Linked DNA regions of Homo sapiens: region 2 is linked to region 1. The links come from fine-mapping of genetic effects on gene expression. A gene starts in region 1. The other region holds a variant in brackets. All regions are shown on one strand. Distances are between the middles of the regions.

Region 1 (8,298 bases):
TTTTTAAATGGCCTGAAATTAAATTATCGGATTGCTTGTTCTATCCTGTGTAAATTTTAAGATTACAGAGCTCATCATCTTTTATTCTCAGATCTCAGGTGTTGTTTTATCACTGGTACATAAATACATATATATATATTTTGTTGTTGTTGTTGTTTGTTTGTTTGTTTTCTTTTTTGAGATGGGAGTCTCACTCTGTTACCGAGACTGGAGTGCAGAGGCACGATCTTGGCTTACTGCAACGTCCACCTCCTGGTTTCAGACGATTTTCATGCCTCAGCCTCCCAAGTGGCTGGGACTACAAGTGCACACCACCACATCCAATTAATTTTGTAATTTTAGTAGAGATGGGGTTTTACCATGTTGGCCAGGCTGGTCTTGAACTACTGACCTCAAGAGATCCACCCGCCTCAGCGTCCCAAAGTGCTAGGATTACAGGCGTGGGCCACTGTGCCCGCCTGTTTGGTACATATATTCTAATGGATCTGTATTTCAGCAATTCTGTACCATGAACTTTCTCTATATATACAGTCTTCCCAGATAAACTCATTCAATCCTATTGATGAATATATATTGATTATATTGAAACTTATTTCTCCACGTGTGATCTTTCCTCTGACCTCCAGATTGTATACAACTGCCAAAACAATAACTATTCTGATGTCTTAACTGGTATCACAAACATAACAAACTCCAAAGAGAATTCAATTACCCCTGCTTAATCTATTCTTCCTGTCTTTCCTAACTCATTTTCCGCTACCATCATTTACTGGGTTGGGCCTGAAATCTAGGGATCTTCTTGCTTAAATCATTCCCCAGTTTTCTCCATCTGAGACCTGTTAGCTCTACCTTCATAAGATATCTCAAACCTGATCATTTCTTACTATTTCAATCAGTACAATCTCAAGCCAAACCATCATCACATTTCACCTGGGCTATTTCAAAGACCTAGCTAGTCTCCTTATTTCCAGTATTGCCCTTCCCCTTTATTCTCCATAAAACAGTCTAAATATCTTAAAATGCAGTCAGAAATTATTCCCTGAATTTGGACTACCCTTCAGTGGATTTCCTTTACTCTTAAAACAAAATTCAAACACCTCACTATGCTTGAGAGGGCCAATGTGTCCTGTCTCCCAATTATCTCTCCAATTTCAACTCCCACCAGTCTCCGTTTTCGCTTACTATCTTCAAGCCACACTGACTTGTTTGCTGTTTCGCAAGAAGGCAAGCTTGCTCTCATTTCAGAGTTTTTACCTATTTCTTCTGCTTAGAATGTTCTTTCTTAAAATCTCGGAATAGCTGACTTCTTGTCACTTAAGCCTCTATTAAAATATTGTGTCACAAATACCACACACCTCATTCCTGATCACCCTATCAATAAAATGGCTACTCTTATCCTTAGGTTGCTGCCTAACTCATTAACCTGTCAGTTTCTTCAAATCACTTACCGTTAACTGTCTGCCACTACTACCAAAAAAATGTATGGTCTGTTAAAAACTCACTACTGTATTCCAAATACCTAAAACAGTACCAGGCATTTAATAATAATAGATAACCCTGTGCTACATATTTAAGTGCTTTAGATGTACTTATTCAGTTAACCCTTACAACAACCTTGTCCAAACAGTGGGCAAGCACTATTGCTATCTCCAACGAACAGATGGAAAAAAGAGGCTGAGGGAGGTTAACTTAAAATTTGCCCAAAGTCACAGAGCAGGCAAATGGCACTGCCAGGATCTGAACCCAGGCAGTCTAGCTCTTGACTACCACACATACTGCCTACTGTTTCTGATATTAGACATAAAGGAAACACTTAAAAAAACCTGTTAAATGGGATGGGCGCGGTGGCTCATGCTTGTAATCCCAGCACTTTGGGAGGCCAAGGCAGGCGGACCACCTGAAGTCAGGAGTTCGAGACCAGCCTGACCAACGTGGTGAAACCCTGTCTCTACTAAAAATACAAAAATTAGCCAGATGTAGTAGCAGGCGCCTGTATTCCCAGCTACTTGGGAGGCTGAGGTGGGAGAATCGCTTGAACCCGGGAGGAGGAGGCTGCAGTGAGCCAAGATCCCACCACTGTACTCCAGCCTGGGTGACAAGAGCAAGACTCTGTCAAAAAACAAACAAACAAAACAAAACAAAAAAACCCTGTTAAATGAATAAATTTTAAAGGAAAAAAACTAATCTAAATATGCAAATCTGACAAAGTATACTTATTATAGTAACATATTATTTATAGCAGTGCTCGTCCCATTTTCACAGCATGGCCTTCAAAAAACGTATCTGTACTAAACACTGGCAAGCAGAGATAATTCCCAGGTACAGGGAACCAGTCTGGAGCATTTGGAGCTGAACCACTGTGAGAGCTGAGATCAATATACTGGCAGAAGTGGAGGCCATTCCTAGTTCTGAGAAGCTCTAGTTGTCAATTAAAAGATTCTAAAAACAATGCGATGGCATCAAATTCAGGCTTGGAATCCAACTTTCTAGTCCTAGCATTGATAAATAAGCCAAAGAATTTGTAAACAAAGGTAATTAAAATGTTATCATTTATCTCACCAAACACTGGCACATATCAAATGATACCAGCTTCTAGCTAATTAAACGGATAGCTATTAAAAAAACTGATTCCAATTACCAAGGCAAATCAGAAGATAGCTGTGTTCTAAGAGATCACCTACCTAATAAAAAACACACACATACACAATATACCCTGTTTGGGCATTGTAACAAAATATAAAAATTAACAAAATTTGTTTCTTTTCTTTTTTTTTGAGACAGGGTCTCTCTCTGTCACCCAGACTGGAGTGCAGTGGCACGATCTCGGCTCACTGCAGCCTCGATCTCTCTAGACTCAAGCGATCCTCTCATCTTAGCCTCCCGAGTAGCTGGGACTACAGGCGTGCATCACCTACGCCCAGCTAATTTTTTTGTATTTTGTAGAGACGCGGTTTCGCCATGTTGCCCAGGCTAGTCTAAGAACTCCTGAGCTCAAGCGACCCGCCTGCTTCGACCTCCCAAAGCGCTGGGATTGCAAGCGTTTGAGCCACTGCGCCCGGCCAAAGTTTTTTATTATCTACTTTCCTATCATTTTATCCCTAGTACACTTTCACTTGCTGTTTTCCTTGCATGGCGGGGGCAATAGGCCTGGTGGGTAAATCTGAATAAAAACGAGAACAGCTGCAGTCTAACTAGCTCTGCCACTTAATGGCGTGACTGGCCCTTTTCAGAAAGTTGTGCCTCACTGGAATGTTTCAAAAATATGTAAAAATAATATGATCTATAAGACAATCAAAAACGCTTCAAATAAGGCGCGGGTTATATTACATAATATCCCTCCACTCTGGCAGTGTTGGCAATGGCAGACAACACCATGAAACTGAAAGCATCCCTTCAGTCTGAAACTGGCGAAAAGGCTACAGGTTTACAAAGTCTCACATCAGCTGAAAATAATACATCCATCAATTCTATCTTTGGCATGGTGTATTCTGACAGTGGTGGATAGAATGTAACCACTTGCTTTATTAATTATGAGATGATTGAAAGAGGAACTACTAACCAAGAAATTGGTAAAGGCCTAGCACAAATATTTTCCCCCTAATTTTACAGGGGCGGGAAAGACCTGAAGAACTTCAAAACCAAGTGGGAAATAAGAATGGGTAACTTGTGTATTTTTTTTTCCTGGCTTTTTTTTTTTCCTTCTTCCGAAGTCAACAAAGGCCTCAGGGTGTCCAGATTGCTACTGATTCATTCTTACCAAGTTCCTTCTGGTAATAGTTTTCAAAAGAGGATCTCAGTGGAGGTGCACAGTGGCGCTCCTAGCTTTCTTTTTACGGAAAGGAGGAAAGGTGCTTGGCACCAGTCGGGGAAGCTCACGCCAAGTGACCGAGACCAGAACTCGCTCTCGACCGGAGCCCCCCAAGTCTGGTGACTTGGAGGAAGGAGGATCCCGAATCCCAGCCAGAACTGAGAAAGCCCTCAAAGGTGCGGAAAGGGGACTTTTCCCTCAGGAAAGCCGGCAACAGCAGAGGCCCTAGCCCACGTCGCCACACCCACTCCGCGCGCGCCCCTCGCCTCCCAGGGCCGGCTCTGCTCGGCCCCGCGGCCTCTCGGGCGCCCCCAGCCCGCCGGAAAGAAAGAAGCAGAAACCCGGAGCCTGGGTCCCACCCGCGACCCCTCACCTTCGCCCTTCTCGTCCTCTCACCTGCCAGTCCCCCAGGAAGAACAGGACGCCTCTTCCCCCTGATGGGCGGCCACAGGCTCGGATCCTTCCATTGCCGCCTGAGACACCGCCGCCGGCTACTGGAAGGTAGGAAGGGGCGGGACCGTGGGGGGGTCAAGGGGCGGGCGGAGACGTCATCAGAGGGGGCGGGCCTGGGGAAGCTAGGAGCCCGGCAGCGCCTTCCCGTCAACCCTAGGGGCGTCCTGGTTTCCGGTTTGGGTGTGGCCGCATGGCGTGCTGTGGTGCAGGTGGCCGAAGGGGGCGTTACTGTTGCGACTGGCATCCGCATCCGGCAGATGTAGATGGAACCAAAGTCCAGAAGTTACGCGTCACCCTTGCTCTACAGCCAAACATGCAGGACTCTAGTAACCCGCGAAATGATGGGATAGCGTTGCAAATCCTTAAAAGAGTCTTAACGGTAAGAAGAGGAAACAGCTTTATTTTATAAATAAACTGAAGGCTGCTAATAGCTCCAGATTGTCAGTGAGGGGATACCACTTAAAGATGTTATACATTTAATAAATAATTTTGGGAGTCCACTACATGTGAGGCGCTGCCTCAGATTTAATAGAATCATGTGACTTTTAGTGCCATAGATGTCGTTAGATCATCCAGTTTGGTCCCTTAAATTTGTGGGTAAGGGAAAGGAACTTCCGGTCAGTGCAAGTGACTTGGTCAAGGTTATAGAGCTAGTCACTGTTAGATTACCAGAACACATATCTAAAAAGTTCTCATATAATTCTTTTTCATTTACTTCCGTGTCACCTTTCTTAGAAAGCAAAAATGAGTTGGACACAATAACATTAGGATTTGTCTTTCACTAAATAACACTGTATATTTGAATAAACATCTGCAGGATTTTTAAAATTAGCATATACTTTGGGTATTATGTAATTTTCTGTGATGTATCATATTTTTAATTAGAAATTTTTCCTCTCATATGGAGATGAGGGTCCAGGCAAAACTGTATTATCCTTCGTGCCCTCTATTCTCTTCAAAATTGCACATCTTAAAATACCTGGAAGCTTTATGTTGCTCACCTATAGCATTATCCGTGTTCCTCAATCCAGTTGTGAACCTTTTCCACATTAAAATGTTCTTGATCTGTGTTCTATTCTTTCAAGGCTCTGCTCTAGCACTAAGATAATGCTACAGGACTGAAGATAATGAAAAAGATTGAAGAAAGCAGAAACAGAACAAAAATCAGATTATTTCAAAGTTTCTTTCCTTGTAAAGGTTAAAACAGAGCATACTTCCTTATTATGCCCACTAGGTTAACTAGAATCTCCTGTTTTTTTAAAAAAAACTGGCTCATTTTTTCAAAATCCACTTTAATTACATGGTGCTTAGCACAAGCAACTCCATTCTGGTTTGATCTGATGGGGCCTAGTGTAGAAGGCTAGGCCAAAACAATGGCCTGCCATTACCCACGCTTCTTCATATTTTAACATCCATGAATAGAGGATGAATTTTTAAAAAATAAATACAGAAAACGATGCATCTTAAAATTGAGGGCATGTTAGATTTGATAAAATATGGTGTGAATTATTTCAGGCATGTAACAAGCAACCAGATTTAACAGATTTTAATGTTTTGTCACATATGTAAAATGGGAAAGAAAACTAGGCGATCACAGCTTTTTGACAGTGAGGCTTTATGTCATAAGAAAGTAGAATGACATATTGAGGAAACTTAAGGGAAAAATATGTAGGCCAAAGATTTTACATTCAGCAAAACTAATATACAAAAGGTACAAACTGTTATCAACAATTGATATATCAATTTGGTGAGACTAGTGTTTTCATGAGCCCCTCCTTAATAATTAATTGGAGAAAGTGTCTGACAATCAGAATTATTACAGAAACATTGATCTAAGGATTGACTCGGTTTCTTTACAGCAAATCATAATCTGTTGCATTTATTAGCTTTTGTGTTTCTTGTAGTTTATTCTTTATTACTAATTCTCCTGAGTTCTGTCACCTCATTTCTGAGGTTTTTCTAATTCAGAATCAAGTTCTTCCATATCTTTTATCATTTCTCTAATGTCATTTAGCTAGTTTCAAAATAATAAATTGTTTTGTAGTGCATCTTTCAGGCATGTTTTTATTATCTTTGATGATGATGTTATATTCCTTATTCTCTTCACATAATAACTGCATGGATTTGAACTTGATGCTTTTTTTGTTGCTCTTTTTTTTTTTTTTTTTTTTTTTTTTTTGAGACAGAGCCTTGCTCTGTTGCCCAGGTTGGAGTGCAGTGGCGGGATCTTGGCTCACTGCAAGTTCTGCCTCCCGGATTCACGCCATTCTCCTGCCTCAGCCTCCCGAGTAGCTGGAACTACAGGCACCTGCCACCACGCCCGGCTAATTTTTTGTATTTTTAGTAGAGACGGGGTTTCACCGTGTTAGCCAGGATGGTCTCGATCTCCTGACCTCGTGATCCACCCCTTGGCCTCCCAAAGTGCTGGGATTACAGGCGTGAGTTATTGCTCATTTTTATGTGAAATTGGTGTTCCTGAACTAATATGAGACAGGCTTCTTAGCCCAATAAGCCTAAGTTTATCAGGAACAAAACTGTATTCCAAGAAAGTCAGGTATATTAGTCTGTTTTCACACTGCTATAAAGAAATACCCGAGACTGGGTAATTTATAAAGGAAAGAGATTTAGTTGACTCACAGTTCCACATGGCTGGGGAGTCCTCAGGAAACTTAAATCATAGCAGAAGGTGAAGGAGAAGCAAGACATATCTTACACGGTGGCAGGAGAGAAGTGAGATCGTGGGAAAACTGCCACTTTTAAAACCATCAGATCTCATGAGAACTCCCTCATTATCACAAGAATAGCATGGGGGAACTGCCCCCATAATCTAATCACCTCCCACCAGGTCTCTCCTTGCACACATGGGAATTAAAATTTGAAGTGAGATTTGGGTGGGGACACAGAGCAGACCATATCATCAGGTTTACTGGCTCATTGCAAGGAGGGAGCCCACATTCCAGAAGAACCATGGGGTACCTCACCAACAGAGGAAGAGATAGATTTATTGTAGGAATTTGGGGAAGTATGGAGTTTAGAAGGAATTGAAATGAAGTAGTGCTTTGATAGACTCAAAAGAAAGCAAGGCTGTTTGTAAAGAATTCTACACTACATCTAAACTATTACTAATGGCAAAAACTGCAATTACTTTTGCACCAACGTAATACAAGATGGACCCAGGGTTCTGTTTTTTGGAAATTGCAAAGTTCTGCCTCTCAGAAGTAGAAACTATTTCTCTGTGTCAATGTGACTTTAGATATTCTAGCCAAGAGTGAGATATTTCAATCTTAATAATAGGATTTAAACAGCAGAGTTTTTGACAATCTTTTGATATTGTCATAAATGTTCTATGATTTTAGAGAAAAGGGCATTGTGTGAGTAAAAAATCAGTTACTCTAAGGGTGTGTGTGTGTGTGTGTGTGTGTGTGTGTGTGTGTGTGTGTTTGAGACATTTTAAAGCATCTTCCAGAGAGAAATAGTATTTTCTGTTAATTTCACAGCTGGCTTTATTTATGCCTGTTATCCCATAGCTGATGAATGGCAAAGCAGATTTTTACTTTCTTATTCTATGCTTATTTGCTTTCTCACAGGTTTTGGGAAAACTTTTCTAATTTCAGAGAATTCCCTTTTCTGTTGCTTTTGTGTAATGTTCAGCAATATTATGGTTTTATTTCCTTTTTAAATTAATACATACATAATAAGCATATATTTATGGGGTATTTTGATATTTGCGTACAAGGTATAATGATAAAACCAAGGTAATTGTGATATCCATCACCTCAAACATTGTTTATTTCTTTGTGTTAGGAACATTTCACATCTTGCCTTCTAGCTATTTTGAAATATATGATAAATTATTGTTAACTATAGTCACCCTCTAGTGCTATCGAACACTAGAAATTGTTTCCTCTATCTAATTGTATTTTTGTACCCATTACGCAACCTTTTTCATCCTCCTTACCCCCAACCTTCCCAGCCTCTGGTAACCATCATTCTACTCTCTACTGCCATGAGATCCACTTTTTTAGCTCTCACTTATG
Region 2 (8,347 bases), 810 kb after region 1:
TATGCATTTTTATAATACTTAATACTTTTCCCCAAGTGTCTGATTCTTTTAAAATATGCAATCATTATCTGAGAATCTAATACATAATGGAAAAGCAAGAAAATTTGTGACAAAAATTATTTTATGTAAGAAAGAAGTAGAGGACAGGCTGCACAACTATTGACCTGGATTCGAACCTACCTTCTGCAAATGAATAACAACAGCTAGTATTAGTATTTATCACTATTGTTCTAATAGTCATTCTTGCCCTTGTCTTCCTTCTCCACCTACTCTCTTCCCCCTTCTAATGGCACCATCACTTTCCTCTAATGTGAATGGGAAAATTTTTTGAGAATAAGGTTAGAGTGCATAGAATTTTCATTGGTCTTACCTCTGCCTTTGTCCTTTGGGAAATTACCACATAGAGCCTATGCAATTTTCATTCAACATAAACATTGAGTTTTAACTCAAGTAAGATTTCAGTTTTCTGTTGCTGCTTATAAGAAGGTAGACAAAAAGATCTCTTAAGGCTTATATAATAAAGTAGTGAGGAATGCTTGCTTTCTGCTTATGTCTCAAAAGAATAACATTAAAGTAAAATATATGAGGTTCTTTTGTTTCTTCGTAAGGAAGATCATCCTATATCCTGACAGAATTCTTTTGTAAATCTCAGTGTAGTTTTCAGATGCAAGTGGTAGACATTATTTGGATCTTATTATACATGCATTGTTCATTTTTTTTTGGTGCTTCTCTGTCAGGCAGCTGTGATGATGAGTCCCAAGTTTCCCAGAGATTTTTACTGAGGTGTCCTATAGGCTTGGTATAAGGCAGAAAACATTAAAAGGGTAAACTGACCCTTTTATGCTCTAAGATATAAACCTCTGTCATCTCACTGACTAATGTTTTAAATGCTAGAGTGAAAGCAAGTAAACATTGGCTTTGGCTGTGAATATTCTGGTGGCACACATTTATGTCGTTGATGAATAGTGTACCTTGAAAAGCCTTAACCCTTACGCCGTTAGCATTTCATCTTGTTCATCTGACTGCCCAAACATCTATATTTAAACAAATCCACAGGGGATCTGTTCTCTAGGACTTTGCTGGAGAACCTTGATGTGTCGGAAAACTGTTCCTATTAATAGAGGAATTATATCTCGAGTGGCTGGCATATGTTAACTAATGGATACTATTAATAGTAATAACAAAAATAAAAAATCATTACAATATTACTACTATTTGAATCACTGACTATGTATGAGAGACATTATAAGTGTTTTATCTATGTTAAGTATATTTCCAACACGACACAATAGGAGGTAATTGCCATTATTATAGAAGTAGGCATAATTATCTCTATCAACATTCTAGTCCACTTTTCCATCATTATCTGTTGCATAAACTCATGCAAAATCTTCTAAATGATCTACACTTTTCACAATCTGGCCTTTTTGCGATGTAATCCATTGACAACATTGAGAGCTTTTTAAAGAAAGGGAATCTGATAATATCTCTCCATTTCTGAACTCTGTGCAGTAGCTCCCCTTTGCCCTTAATAGATACTTAGATCTCCTTATAGTTATATTGCTTCAACTTACCTCTCTAGCATCATCTGCTACTTTACTCAGCTTTTTCCTGCATACTAATTTGAAACCTTAGGCACTGCCTTTACTTCACTACCTGCTTTTCTTTTTGTGTTTTCCTCTCCCCCTCATCTTTTCATCTACTCCTAGACATTATTGAGGACTCACTTTATCAATGACTTTGAGATCTCTTCTACATGTTTCCTTAGCATTGTGACCTTATAACACTTTTAGACTTTTCCTTTTTACTTGCTTATAGTCTATCTTTCAAAGTACAACGTAAGGCATGAGGGAGCAGAAAGTGCCTACATTTCTTCTCTGAAAATCCAGCACTTATCCGTGGTTTGTGCTGATCAATTCATAAATATTCCTTGAAGGAATGACTTATTTTTTTTTTTACATTGCACAATGAAGGCTTTCATTGAATCAACCCTGTTTTCAGAGTCTCTTTAGTATCCCTCTTTGATATTTAATGACACTAAAGTTTACACAGTTGTGATGATATAGCAACATATGAGTTTCTAATGGTAGGTCACTTTCTTTGACCTCCCGTATTTCTCTCACTGTGAGTCAAACACTCTGAATGAAAACATATCTGGCCATTCCTTCTGAAATGCAAAGCAAATAAATCAAACATGAATACATTTACCTTAGGCAGGGTTTTGGCTGGTTTACAGTGGAGTTCCCCCACAAAATCGACATTTGGTAAGGGTGGGTGAAGAAATTCAAAATCCCAGTACGTTTGAATGAGCCACACTTCAGCTTTCCCCATTGTCTCAAATAATGTACATTAATAAAATAAATATATACATATATTTTTATATATAAGCATAACAATTTTATATATTGCATATTACTTATATATAAGGAAAGCAAAATGTTCAGAGAATTAAGAGGAAATTACATATATTTTTTTCTTTTTCTTTTTTTTATTATACTTTAAGTTTTAGGGTACATGTGCACATTGTGCAGGTTAGTTACATATGTATACATGTGCCATGCTGGTGCACTGCACCCACTAACTCGTCATCTAGCATTAGGTATATCTCCCAATGCTATCCCTGCCCCCTGCCCCTACCCCACCACAGTCCCCAGAGTGTGATATTCCCCTTCCTGTGTCCATGTGATCTCATTGTTCAATTCCCACCTATGAGTGAGAATATGTGGTGTTTGGTTTTTTGTTCTTGCGATAGTTTACTGAGAATGATGATTTCCAATTTCATCCATGTCCCTACAAAGGACATGAACTCATCATTTTTTATGGCTGCATAGTATTCCATGGTATATATGTGCCACATTTTCTTAATCCAGTCTATCATTGTTGGACATTTGGGTTGGTTCCAAGTCTTTGCTATTGTGAATAATGTCACAATAAACATACGTGTGCATGTGTCTTTATAGCAGTATGATTTTTAGTCCTTTGGGTATATACCCAGTAATGGGATGGCTGGGTCAAATGGTATTTCTAGTTCTAGATCCCTGAGGAATTGCCACACTGACTTCCACAATGGTTGAACTAGTTTACAGTCCCACCAACAGTGTAAAAGTGTTCCTATTTCTCCACATCCTCTCCAGCACCTGTTTTTTCCTGACTTTTTAATGATTGCCATTCTAACTGGTGTGAGATGGTATCTCATTGTGGTTTTGATTTGCATTTCTCTGATGGCCAGTGATGATGAGCATTTTTTCATGTCTTTTTTGGCTGCATAAATGTCTTCTTTTGAGAAGTGTCTGTTCATGTCCTTTGCCCACTTTTTGATGGGGTTGTTTGTTTTTTTCTTGTAAATTTGTTTGAGTTCATTGTAGATTCTGGATATTAGCCCTTTGTCAGTTGAGTAG[G/A]TTGCAAAAATTTTCTCCCATTCTGTAGGTTGCCTGTTCACTCTGATGGTAGTTTCTTTTGCTGTGCAGAAGCTCTTTAGTTTAATTAGATCCCATTTGTCAATTTTGGCTTTTCTTGCCATTGCTTTTGGTGTTTTAGACATGAAGTCCTTGCCCATGCCTATGTCCTGAATGGTAATGCCTAGATTTTCTTCTAGGGTTTTTATGGTTTTAGGTCTAACGTTTAAGTCTTTAATCCATCTTGAATTGATTTTTGTATAAGGTGTAAGGAAGGGATCCAGTTTCAGCTTTCTACATATGGCTAGCCAGTTTTCCCAGCACCATTTATTAAATAGGGAATCCTTTCCCCATTGCTTGTTTTTCTCAGGTTTGTCAAAGATCAGATAGTTGTAGATATGCGGCGTTATTTCTGAGGGCTCTGTTGTGTTCCATTGATCTATATCTCTGTTTTGGTACCAGTACCATGCTGTTTTGGTTACTGTAGCCTTGTAGTATAGTTTGAAGTCAGGTAGCGTGATGCCTCCAGCTTTGTTCTTTTGGCTTAGGATTGACTTGGTGATGCGGGCTCTTTTTTGGTTCCATATGAACTTTAAAGTAGTTTTTTCCAATTCTGTGAAGAAAGGCATTGGTAGCTTGATGGGGATGGCATTGCATCTGTAAATTACCTTGGGCAGTATGGCCATTTTCACGATATCGATTCTTCCTACCCATGAGCAGGGAATGTTCTTCCATTTGTTTGTATCCTCTTTTATTTCCTTGAGCAGTGGTTTGCAGTTCTCCTTGAAGAGGTCCTTCATATCCCTTGTAATTTGGATTCCTAGGTATTTAATTCTCTTTGAAGCAATTGTGAATGGGAGTTCACTCATGATTTGGCTCTCTGTTTGTCTGTTGTTGGTGTATAAGAATGCTTGTGATTTTGGTACATTGATTTTGTATCCTGAGACTTTGCTAAAGTTGCTTATCAGCTTAAGGAGATTTTGGGCTGAGACAATGGGGTTTTCTAGATATACAATCATGTCTTCTGCAAACAGGGACAATTTGACTTCCTCTTTTCCTAATTGAATACCCTTTATTTCCTTCTCCTGCCTCATTGCCCTGGCCAGAACTTCCAACACTATGTTGAATAGGAGTGGTGAGAGAGGGCATCCCTGTCTTGTGCCAGTTTTCAAAGGGAATGCTTCCAGTTTTTGCCCATTCAGTATGATATTGGCTGTGGGTTTGTCATAGATAGCTCTTATTATTTTGAAATACGTCCCATCAATACCTAATTTATTGAGAGTTTTTAGCATGAAGGGTTGTTGAATTTTGTCAAAGGCTTTTTCTGCATCTATTGAGATAATCATGTGGTTTTTGTCTTTGGCTCTGTTTATATGCTGGATTACATTTATTGATTTGTGTATATTGAACCAGCCTTGCATCCCAGGGATGAAGCCCACTTGATCATGGTGGATACGCTTTTTGATGTGCTGCTGGATTCGATTTGGCAGTATTTTATTGAGGATTTTTGCATCAATGTTCATCAAGGATATTGGTCTAAAATTCTCTTTTTTGGTTGTGTCTCTGCCTGGCTTTGGTATTAGAATGATGCTGGCCTCATAAAATGAGTTAGGGAGGATTCCCTCTTTTTCTATTGATTGGAATAGTTTCAGAAGGAATGGTACCAGTTCCTCCTTGTACCTCTGGTAGAATTCGGCTGTGAATCCATCTGGTCCTGGACTCTTTTTTGTTGGTAAGCTATTGATTATTGCCATAATTTCAGATCCTGTTATTGGTCTATTCAGAGATTCACCTTCTTCCTGGTTTAGTCTTGGGAGAGTGTATGTGTCGAGGAATTTATCCATTTCTTCTAGATTTTCTAGTTTATTTGCGTAGAGGTGTTTGTAGTATTCTCTGATGGTAGTTTGTATTTCTGTGGGATCAGTGGTGATATCCCCTTTATCATTTTTTATTGCGTCTATTTGATTCTTCTCTCTTTTTTTCTTTATTAGTCTTGCTAGCGGTCTATCAATTTTGTTGATCCTTTCAAAAAACCAGCTCCTGGATTCATTAATTTTTTGAAGGGTTTTTTGTGTCTCTATTTCCTTCAGTTCTGCTCTGATTTTAGTTATTTCTTGCCTTCTGCTAGCTTTTGAATGTGTTTGCTCTTGCTTTTCTAGTTATTTTAATTGTGATGTTAGGGTGTCAATTTTGGATCTTTCCTGCTTTCTCTTGTGGGCATTTAGTGCTATAAATTTCCCTCTACACACTGCTTTAAATGCGTCCCAGAGATTCTGGTATGTTGTGTCTTTGTTCTCATTGGTTTCAAAGAACATCTTTATTTCTGCCTTCATTTTGTTATGTACCCAGTAGTCATTCAGGAGCAGGTTGTTCAGTTTCCATGTAGTTGAGCGGTTTTGAGTGAGATTCTTAATCCTGAGTTCTACTTTGATTGTACTGTGGTCTGAGAGATAGTTTGTTGTAATTTCTGTTCTTTTACATTTGCTGAGGAGAGCTTTACTTCCAAGTACGTGGTCAATTTTGGAATAGGTGTGGTGTGGTGCTGAAAAAAATGTATATTCTGTTGATTTGGGGTGGAGAGTTTTGTAGATGTCTATTAGGTCCGCTTGGTGCAGAGCTGAGTTCAATTCCTGGGTATCCTTGTTGACTTTCTCTCTCGTTGATCTGTCTAATGTTGACAGTGGGGTGTTAAAGTCTCCCATTATTAATGTGTGGGAGTCTAAGTCTCTTTGTAGGTCACTTAGGACTTGCTTTATGAATCTGGGTGCTCCTGTATTGGGTGCATGTATATTTAGGATAGTTAGCTCTTCTTGTTGAATTGATCCCTTTACCATTATGTAATGACCTTCTTTGTCTCTTTTGATCTTTGTTGGTTTAAAGTCTGTTTTATCAGAGACTAGGATTGCAACCCCTGCCTTTTTTTGTTTTCCATTTGCTTGGTAGATCTTCCTCCATCCTTTTATTTTGAGCCTATGTGTGTCTCTGCACGTGGGATGGGTTTCCTGAATACAGCACACTGATGGGTCTTGACTTTTTATCCAATTTGCCAGTCTGTGTCTTTTAATTGGAGCATTTAGTCCATTTACATTTAAAGTTAATATTGTTATGTGTGAATTTGATCCTGTCATTATGATGTTAGCTGGTTATTTTGCTAGTTAGTTGATGCAGTTTCTTCCTAGTCTCAATGGTCTTTACATTTTGGCATGATTTTGCAGCAGCTGGTACCGGTTGTTCCTTTCCATGTTTAGCATTTCCTTCAGGAGCTCTTTTAGGGCAGGACTGGTGGTGACAAAATCTTTCAGCATTTGCTTGTCTGTAAAGTATTTTATTTCTCCTTCACTTATGAAACTTAGTTTGGCTGGATATGAAATTCTGGGTTGAAAATTCTTTTCTTTAAGAATGTTGAGTATTGGCCCCCACTCTCTTCTGGCTTGTAGGGTTTCTGCCGAGAGATCCACTGTTAGTCTGATGGGCTTCCCTTTGAGGGTAAGCCCACCCTTCTCTCTGTCTGCCCTTAACATTTTTTTCTTCATTTCAACTTTGGTGAATCTGACAATTATGTGTCTTGGAGTTGCTCTTCTCGAGGAGTATCTTTGTGGCGTTCTTTGTATTTCCTGAATCTGAATGTTGGCCTGCCTTGCTAGATTGGGGAAGTTCTCCTGGATAATACCCTGCAGAGTGTTTTCCAACTTGGTTCCATTCTCCCCATCACTTTCAGGTACACCAATCAGACGTAGATTTGGTCTTTTCACATAGTCCCATATTTCTTGGAGGCTTTGCTCATTTCTTTTTATTCTTTTTTCTCTAAACTTCCCTTCTCGCTTCATTTCATTCATTTCATCTTCCATTGCTGATACCCTTTCTTCCAGTTGATCGCATCGGCTCCTGAGGCTTCTGCATTCTTCACGTAGTTCTCGAGCCTTGGTTTTCAGCTCCATCAGCTCCTTTAAGCACTTCTCTGTGTTGGTTATTCTAGTTATACATTCTTCTAAATTTTTTTCAAAGTTTTCAACTTATTTGCCTTTGGTTTGAATGTCCTCCCGTACCTCAGAGTAATTTGATCGTCTGAAGCCTTCTTCTCTCAGCTCGTCAAAGTCATTCTCCATCCAGCTTTGTTCCGTTGCTGGTGAGGAACTATGTTCCTTTGGAGGAGGAGAGGCGCTCTGCTTTTTAGAGTTTCCAGTTTTTCTGTTCTGTTTTTTCCCCATCTTTGTGGTTTTATCTACTTTTGGTCTTTGATGATGGTGATGTACAGATGGGTTTTTGGTGTGGATGTCCTTTCTGTTTGTTAGTTTTCCTTCTAACAGACAGGACCCTCAGCTGCAGGTCTGTTGGAATACCCCACCGTGTGAGGTGTCAGTGTGCCCCTGCTGCGGGGTGCCTCTCAGTTAGGCTGCTTGGGGGTCAGGGGTCAGGGACCCACTTGAGGAGGCAGTCTGCCCGTTCTCAGATCTCCAGCTGCGTGCTGGGAGAACCACTGCTCTCTTCAAAGCTGTCAGACAGGGACATTTAAGTCTGCAGAGGTTACTGCTGTCTTTTTGTCTGTGCCCTGCCCCCAGAGGTGGAGCCTACAGAGGCAGGCAGGCCTCCTTGAGCTGTGGTGGGCTCCACCCAGTTCGAGCTTCCCTGTTGCTTTGTTTACCTAAGCAAGCCTGGGCAATGGCGGGCGCCCCTCCCCCAGCCTCACTGCCACCTTGCAGTTTGATCTCAGACTGCTGTGCTAGCAATCAGCGAGACTCCATGGGCGTAGGACCCTCCGATCCAGGTGCGGGATATAATCTCGTGGTGCACCATTTTTTAAGCCCGTCGGAAAAGCCCAGTATTTGGGTGGGAGTGACCCGATTTTCCAGGTACGTCCCTCACCCCTTTCTTTGACTCGGAAAGGGAACTCCCTGACCCCTTGTGCTTCCCAAGTGAGGCATTGCCTCGCCCTGCTTTGGCTCACGCATGGT

Evidence for each region.
Region 2: its variant is fine-mapped to the expression of UBA6-DT in fibroblasts (GTEx, PIP 0.96).

The regions. Positions count from the first base shown.
Region 1 is chr4:67,696,845-67,705,142 of GRCh38, forward strand. UBA6-DT (UBA6 divergent transcript) reads left to right here and starts at 4,434. Exons shown (of 2, transcript NR_015439.1): 1 at 4,434-4,640. UBA6 (ubiquitin like modifier activating enzyme 6) reads right to left here and starts at 4,311. Exons shown (of 33, transcript NM_018227.6): 1 at 4,205-4,311. The coding sequence starts at 4,275. RefSeq lists silencers at 4,035-4,204, 4,335-4,404.
Region 2 is chr4:68,507,328-68,515,674 of GRCh38, forward strand. No RefSeq gene overlaps it. Among named protein-coding and RNA genes, the nearest start is that of TMPRSS11E, 64 kb to the left of the region's middle. The variant G/A (reference allele first, on the strand shown) is at 3,399.